Linked DNA regions of Homo sapiens. The gene in region 2 interacts genetically with the main gene of each other region. Each region holds a gene or a part of one and is shown on either strand. Other genes may lie near its edges.

The links.
Region 1: changes in PSMC3IP (region 2) and NF1 together harm fitness more than expected from each alone (negative genetic interaction), as found in Homo sapiens cells (one large-scale study listed by BioGRID).

What each region holds. Positions count from the first base shown.
Region 1 is NC_000017.11:31,101,426-31,105,244, reverse strand, and holds part of NF1 (neurofibromin), read right to left. Parts: intron 1-3,819. UniProt on the Homo sapiens protein: Stimulates the GTPase activity of Ras. NF1 shows greater affinity for Ras GAP, but lower specific activity. May be a regulator of Ras activity.
Region 2 is NC_000017.11:42,571,714-42,574,952, forward strand, and holds the end of PSMC3IP (homologous-pairing protein 2 homolog), read right to left. Parts: intron 2,622-3,239; exon of another isoform or gene 2,603-2,621; intron 2,498-2,602; coding exon 2,386-2,497; exon of another isoform or gene 2,106-2,385; intron 1,911-2,105; coding exon 1,765-1,910; intron 1,652-1,764; coding exon 1,598-1,651; intron 1,491-1,597; exon of another isoform or gene 1,454-1,490; coding exon 1,394-1,453; exon of another isoform or gene 1,312-1,393; coding exon 1,255-1,311; 3' UTR 597-1,254; downstream 1-596. UniProt on the Homo sapiens protein: Plays an important role in meiotic recombination. Stimulates DMC1-mediated strand exchange required for pairing homologous chromosomes during meiosis.

The DNA.
Region 1 (3,819 bases), about 11 Mb from region 2:
ACAGAAGCTTTTTGATGATATAGTCAGTGGCTCAAAAGCCACTCAGGACCCAGCACAGTAGTTCACGCCTGTAATTCCAGTGCTTTGGGAAGCCAGGTGGGAAGACTGCTTGAGGCCAAGAGTTTGAGACCAGCCTGGGCAACATAACAAGACACTGTCTCTACGAAAAAAATTAAAATAATAGCCAGGTATGGTGGCGCACGCCCATAGTCCTAGATATTCGGGAGGTGGGAGATCACTTGAGCCCAGGAGTTCGAGGCTATGGTGAGCTATGATCACACCACTGCACTCCAGCCTGAGGAACAAAGAGAGACCTCACTTCTAAAATAAATGAATAATAAACAATTTTTAAAAACCAGTTATATGCAGAGAATATAACTATATATCACAGGCATATAACATTTGAAGTGGTCAAATGGATTGCCTTTAAGAGAATTTAGCGAGGGTACTATAAACAGCAGTTATAGTTTATATCCTATAGCATTAAACACCTGAGAGTACTCTGTTTACTGAAGGCTCTACCACATAGTATGATACAGAAATTTACAACTTGCTGAGACCTTAAACTTAATTCACAGTCACTACAACGTAAAACCACTTTTCTGTCCTTCAAGATCAAAACAAATGGTCTCATCTCTCCCTTCCCGCCCCCAAGAAAATGGGGTACTTTAAAAGATGTCAGATGAAACAAGCCAATGCTTTTATAAATACAAGTCAATCCTTTGCAAAGAAACAGATTAAGATGCTCATATTCTGCTTCGGTATTGATCCCAAGCCTTTTAACAGTTTAAGCTGACCACAAATCTCCCCTTCCACTTCTATAGAATATTCTCCTCCTTAAACTTCCTTTAGAGCCTTCCGATACCTCCTGTCCCTTGACTTATATACACACACACCTCCAAAATATACGCAGACCTAAGGAACACAAGTGGAAAACACATTTTTAATTAATACGCTGCTTATCCTTAAAAGTATGTCGTTAGAATGCAACAATATAGAGTCTACATAGAACCCCAGAATACCAAATTTGAAAGCTACAACAAAAATGCCCCATAGCAATCTGAGTAATTTAAAGAACAAAGATGTAAAAAATAAGGCATTCTTACTACTGTATTATATGACTTAAACTTTTGTTTAAGGACAAAATGTTTGGTTGGGTGCAGTGGCCGGTACCCAAATAAAAAACGAAAAACAAAAATACTTTCTCCATATTAAAAAAAAAAATTTTTTTTGAGACAGGGTCTCACCCAGGCCAGAGTGCAGTGGTGCAATCATGCCTCACTGCAGCCTTAATTTCCTGGGCTCAAGCAATCCTGACTCAGCCTCCCAAGTAGCATATACTACCACACTTGGCTAATTTGTCTGTTTTTTTTCTTTTCTTTACTTTCAACCAATGCACACTGGCTGATTTTTTTTTTATTTGTTTTTTTTACTTTTTGTAGAGATGGGGTCTCACTCTGTTGCCCAGGCTGGTCTCAAACTCTGAGGCCCAAGTGATCCTCCCACCTCAGCCCCCCAAAAAGCTTGAATTATAGGCATGAGCCACCGCACCCAGCCAAAACATTTTTTAAAAGCAGACTTAAGGCCAGGTGCAGTGGCTTGCATCTGTAATCCCAGCACTTTGGGAGGCTGAGGCAGGTGTTTGAGGCCAGCCTGGCCAACATGGCAAAACCCCGTCTATAGTAAAAATACAAAAATAGGGCCAGGCACGGTGGTTCAAGCCTGTGATCCCAGCACTTTGGGAGGCTGAAGCGGGCGGATCACCTCAGGTCAGGAGTTCAAGACCAGCCTAGCCAACATGGTAAAACCCTGCCTCTACTAAAAATACAAAAAAATTAGCTGGGTGTGGTGGCACACGCCTGTAATCCCAGCTACTTGGGAGGCTGAGGCAGGAGAATCACTTGAACCCGGGAGGCAGAGGTTGCAGTGAGCCAAAATTGTACCACTACACTCCAGCCTAGGCGAGAAAGCGAGAACTTGTCTCAAAATAATAATAATAATAAAGCAGATTTGAGAAAAGAATCTAATTTCCTAATGGTTAAAAAGTCAAATAAAAAGAGTAGGGCAAAAAACAGGAACATTTAAAATAAAATGTAACAATATTAGACCAGCACCACAGCTTATGCCTATAATCCCAGCACTTTGGGAGGCTGAGGCAGGTGGATTGTTTGAGGTCAGTAGTTTGAGACCAGCTAACATGGCGAACCCTTGTCTCTTTTAAAAATACAAAAATTAGCCAGGTGTGGTAGTACGTGCCTGTAATGCCAGCTACTTGGGAGGCTGAGGCAGGAGAATCGCTTGAACCCAGAAGGTGGAGCTTGCAGTGAGCTGAGATCGTGCCACTGCACTCCAACCTGGGCAATAGAGCGAGACTCTATCTCAAAAAAAAAAAAATGAAGAAGAAGAAAAAAGAGAACTTGTCAATGGATACTAAAGTAAGGTATATATTGGCCAAGGTACATACAAAGGAATATCCAGAGACTAGTCACGCTCTCTTTTTTTTTTTTTGGAAGACAGGGTCTCACTCTGTCACCGAAGCTGGAGTACAGTGGCACAATCATGGCTCACTGTATGCTTGAACTCCTGGGTTCAAGTGATCTTCCTGCCTCAGCCTCCTGAGTAGCTGCGACTACAGGCACATGCCACCACACCCAACTAATTTTTTTTAGAGACAGCATCTCACTATGTTGCACAGCCTGGTCTTGAATTCAAGGCCTCAAGCAGTCCTCCCACATGGGCCTCCCAAAGTGCTGGGATTACAAGCATCAGCTACCGCACCTGGCCTACTCTCCCTTATTTAATGAAAACACAATAATCAGTAATAAGCTACACTGCACTCTAGCCTGAGTGACAGAGCAAGACTCTGTCACACACACAAAAAATAATAATAATAATAAGCTATAAAGAAAACATATAAATCTTATATTAGAAAAATTTTAGACTTTTCAAAGTGCTTCACATTCATATTCTATCACACCATTGCAAAATATCCTAACAGTAAGTGACAAATCCAAAATTACAAAAGTAGTTGATCAGATCTGAAACCTGATTCAAAAAACATGTTTGCTCTATGGGAGGAAATATAAATATGTATAAATTCCTTCTTTATGCTAATTTTCTTACTCATTCCTAGTTAAAATATCACTTATCAGACCTAGGCTATTGCAAACATGGAAGTAAAATTCAGTAAAACAAAGCCAAAAGTACCACTTTTTTTATTTAGCCAGTCTACCCTTCAACCAGGAATCATATGAAAAACATTCCATCAATGTTCTGTGTGTTTAAGACTGTGCTGGGCACTGGGGTGACTAGAAGAGAATTCAAATAGCGTTCTTTGCTTTTCAGAAAGTATGCACTCCATTTGATAAAAAGACAAGAAAAAAAGAAAACAAAGCCAAGCTGTGTTCAAACAATCCTCCTAAAGGAAGAAAACTTACTGTGTGGTTCTGTAAAACTCCAGGTAACAAGGATACCAAGAAGTGAGATAGCAGAGTTTAGTCTGAAACAACCTCATGGGGAAAAAAAAAAAATGAAATCTGAGCTGAACATTGAAGGATGGACAGGAATTAGAAAAGCACAAAGGAGGAATTAAAGCATTCAGGCAGAGACTGGCAGAAATAAAGGCCAAGAAGTGGGAAGAAGCATGATACACACAGAAGAGACTGAGGTGACCTGCCTGGAACATAGGTGCATGCAGAGGCATAATGGGAAAGAGTTTGGTAAATCAAGTGGGGTCAGCTCCCAATAGACTGCTGGGTCACAGAGACATGCTGTTAGAATATTAAAATCATCGAATATTTAAACTTGAAAGAATCTAAA
Region 2 (3,239 bases):
TGGTTTCTACTTGGTGTTTGGTTTTTCCCAGCCCCATTTTATCTTCAGCGGAGCCGCGGTGTTTGTTTTGTGAAAGCTTCTGATTAATTTATTATATTGACGATAAAACTCAAACCTACCCAGCCTTCCCCCCACTCCATGGAAGTCCTTGGGATGGGCGTCTGCTCTGGACACCCCAAAGAGCTCCTGCCCTCTCAGCCCTTTATTCAAGCCTCAGATTTCTGCTCATGATCTACATAGATTTGGAAACTGTTTTCCTCTGTTTTGGTCTCTTGGGCAACATTTTTGGCCCAAGTTTGGGCAACATTTGGCCCAAGTTTGGGCATTTTGGCAGTAGCTGTATGGGAGAAAAAGAGTAAGAGGAAATATTCCCACAGCCATGAAGGGTGAAAGGGCACCTTGTGCCTAGACTAGGGCTGCCTGGTCAGTCCCAGGTGAGGCCAAGGGCTTTCTGGCCATCTCAGGGAGGGGCCACCAGGTTCCTCCCCTCACCCCATATTCCATCACCTTCCTCCTCTGCTCTGGGTGGTAAGGGAAGCCCTCCCGGTTCCCACAGGCTATGATGCTGCATGGCAGAGGCAGGTATAACACAGCACTACATATTGGAAATTTTTTATTTTTCTAAATACCAATGCAGTTTTGCTACGGTTACAATTTTGAAATATTAACTGAGCCTCAAAATCACCCTTTCTGTCAAGCATATCTTGGCCTCTCCCATGTCTCAGTGTTGCCTGCATTTCTCCCAGGACTTGGGGGTGGGGTGAAAAGCGTACAAAAGATACTTAAAAGGGCTCCTGGGGTACACAAGCCCAGCAGGTCCTGAGTGAAGCCGTGGGCCCTCCAAATGCTCGTTTTATAGCAACCTCTCTCTACCCTAGTTCTCCAAATTCACTTCTGCCTTCCTCAGGTTTGATATCTGGCAGGTTTGACTATCCAGAGGAAATTAAATATTTTTATATAAAATTAAATTATAATAAATATTGCCAAATGCTTTCCTTTAGCATTGTTCCAAGTCTAAATGTTAACCTCAAGCTACTGCAATTTAGACAATGAAATGGGCTGGGTCTACCCCCAGCCACCAGCCCTCATCCTCTCTACCCAGTGCTCTGGTTTATGCTTGTCTCCTGACTGCTCTGCTTAAAGGTGAAAGTAGCAGGAACAACAACAAAAGCCAACCAAAAACAAGGTAGCCAGTGCAAGACATCTCACTCTTCTGACATCCTGCAGTCCCCACCAGTCCTGACCGTGGGCCCCTCAGGGGTCTGGGAGTGTGACGTTGTAATCTTCATCCGTCTCTATCCCAACTTCCTCCTGTGAGACAGGGAGACAAGTGAATGAGATGTCACCAGGATAAGACCACAGGGAAGCAAAGAAGGAAGAGAGCTCCACTTACAAAGAACTGCTTCTTGCTCTTGGGGTATCCTTCAAGTATTGCATCAGACAGCTCTGTAGCCTGACAAGAAATAAAACCACCCGTTTTCAGATGGGCAGCACTGGGCACTGCCTGTCAGTTTATGATATTGTGTAGCGGCTGATCTGGTGCCTGCCATTTTCAAAGGCACCTCCAGGGCCTGTCTCGGAGCTCCCACACACTTACCATCCTCTTCCTCTTCCTCCACTCCTTACAGTACTTCTGCCTCTCTCTGTACACCTAGAAGGAAAAAGCAAGTTCCTCTAACTCCTCAGAACCACAGCAGCCCTCTGGGGCTCAGCCCTGATGTTCACTCTGGACCTGCACAGCGGTCCTACAGCCTTCCAGCTCACCTGCTCTTTCTCTTCTGGAGTCACATGATTGGTAGCTGCTTTAATGTTCTTCAATCTCTCTCTGTAGCCAGCGCATTCCTTCTTTAACTCCTGGATTTCTTTCTGCATCTCTGGTGTGGTCAGGGCACTAGATAATTCCTTGAGCTCTGAAACCACATCCGCCTGGGGTCACTTGCTACCCCTGAGGAAGGAGTTCTGTCTTTCCCAGTGGGTGCTCCCTGAGGTGTTCCACCTTGCTCTGGATCTATCATCTCACATGGAAACTAAGCCATACAGGATTATTTATTCTTCTAATTTTCTTTCCTCCTCCATCTACAAGTGGCGTGGGTGTGAGGTTGAACACTTACTTAGGCGTAGCCAGTTAAAGAAGCAGGAATAAAGGGAAACGTGGGGACAGTGTACTGATAATCGTGGCAGGGAGAACAAATGCGTATCTTGTCCATTTGTTGGTACACAAAAGCCGTTAGTTATCCTACATTTCTTTTTATGCCTAAGGGAGCCCAGCAAAGGGGTCTTAGCTGCAACAAGATGCTGCAGTCATTGAACCATTCATTTAGTAATTCCTGACCTCTAGAATGAACCTAAGCCTATGGGCACTTTGGAGGGGCTACCCAGTCCTACCAGCCTCCATGTAGCGGCAGCTCTGCTGCAAGCTCTGCACCTTAGCAGTGAGGGCCACGATTTTGCCATCTAGGACTTGAAGGTCAGCATCACTCACCATGTCAAACTGGTCCTGCCAGACAAAGAGGGAAAATACAAGTGAACTGTTGTGAGGCACAAAGATGGGAACACACACCTGGGAAGGCACCATTTGGATATGCTCAGGAACCAGCCACACCCCAAAGTCTCCAGAGGGTCTGCAGAAATAGTGGGAGAGTACTTTTGAGAAATTGTTTTCAGTTAAGGAGCGGCCCCACTAAAAAGGTAGGAAAGAAAAGCTGAAATCTAATGCTTGTCCTTAAGCTACTAGGTTGACAGGATACTGATTAGGACAGAAATCTTCCCATTTAGTGATAAAACCACTACCTGGGCTGAAGCAGTTAAGTAACATTGTTCCCACGGTGGGGAAACCTAGATCATGGGTTTCCATAATAGATAGAAACTGGACAGGTGAAGAAGCATGATGGATGGGATGGATGGACTTCTTTTCTTCTTCCTTCCTGTCCTTTCTTCCCATCCTTCTTTCCACCTTCCTCTCTCCCTCCTTCCTTCCTTCCTTTTTCCTCCCTCCCTCCCTCCTTCCCCCTCCCTTTCCCTCTCTCTTTCTCTCTCTTTCTCCCTCCCTTCCCTCTTTTCCTCTCTTTCTTTCTCTGTCACCCAGGCCAGAGTGCAGTGGTGCAATCTTGGCTGACTGCAACCTCCGCCTCCTGGCTTCAAGCGATTCTCATGCCTCAGCCTCCTAAGTAGCTGGGATTACAGGCGCGCACCACCAAGCGCAGCTAATTTTTGTATTTTTAGTAGAGAAGGGGTTTCAC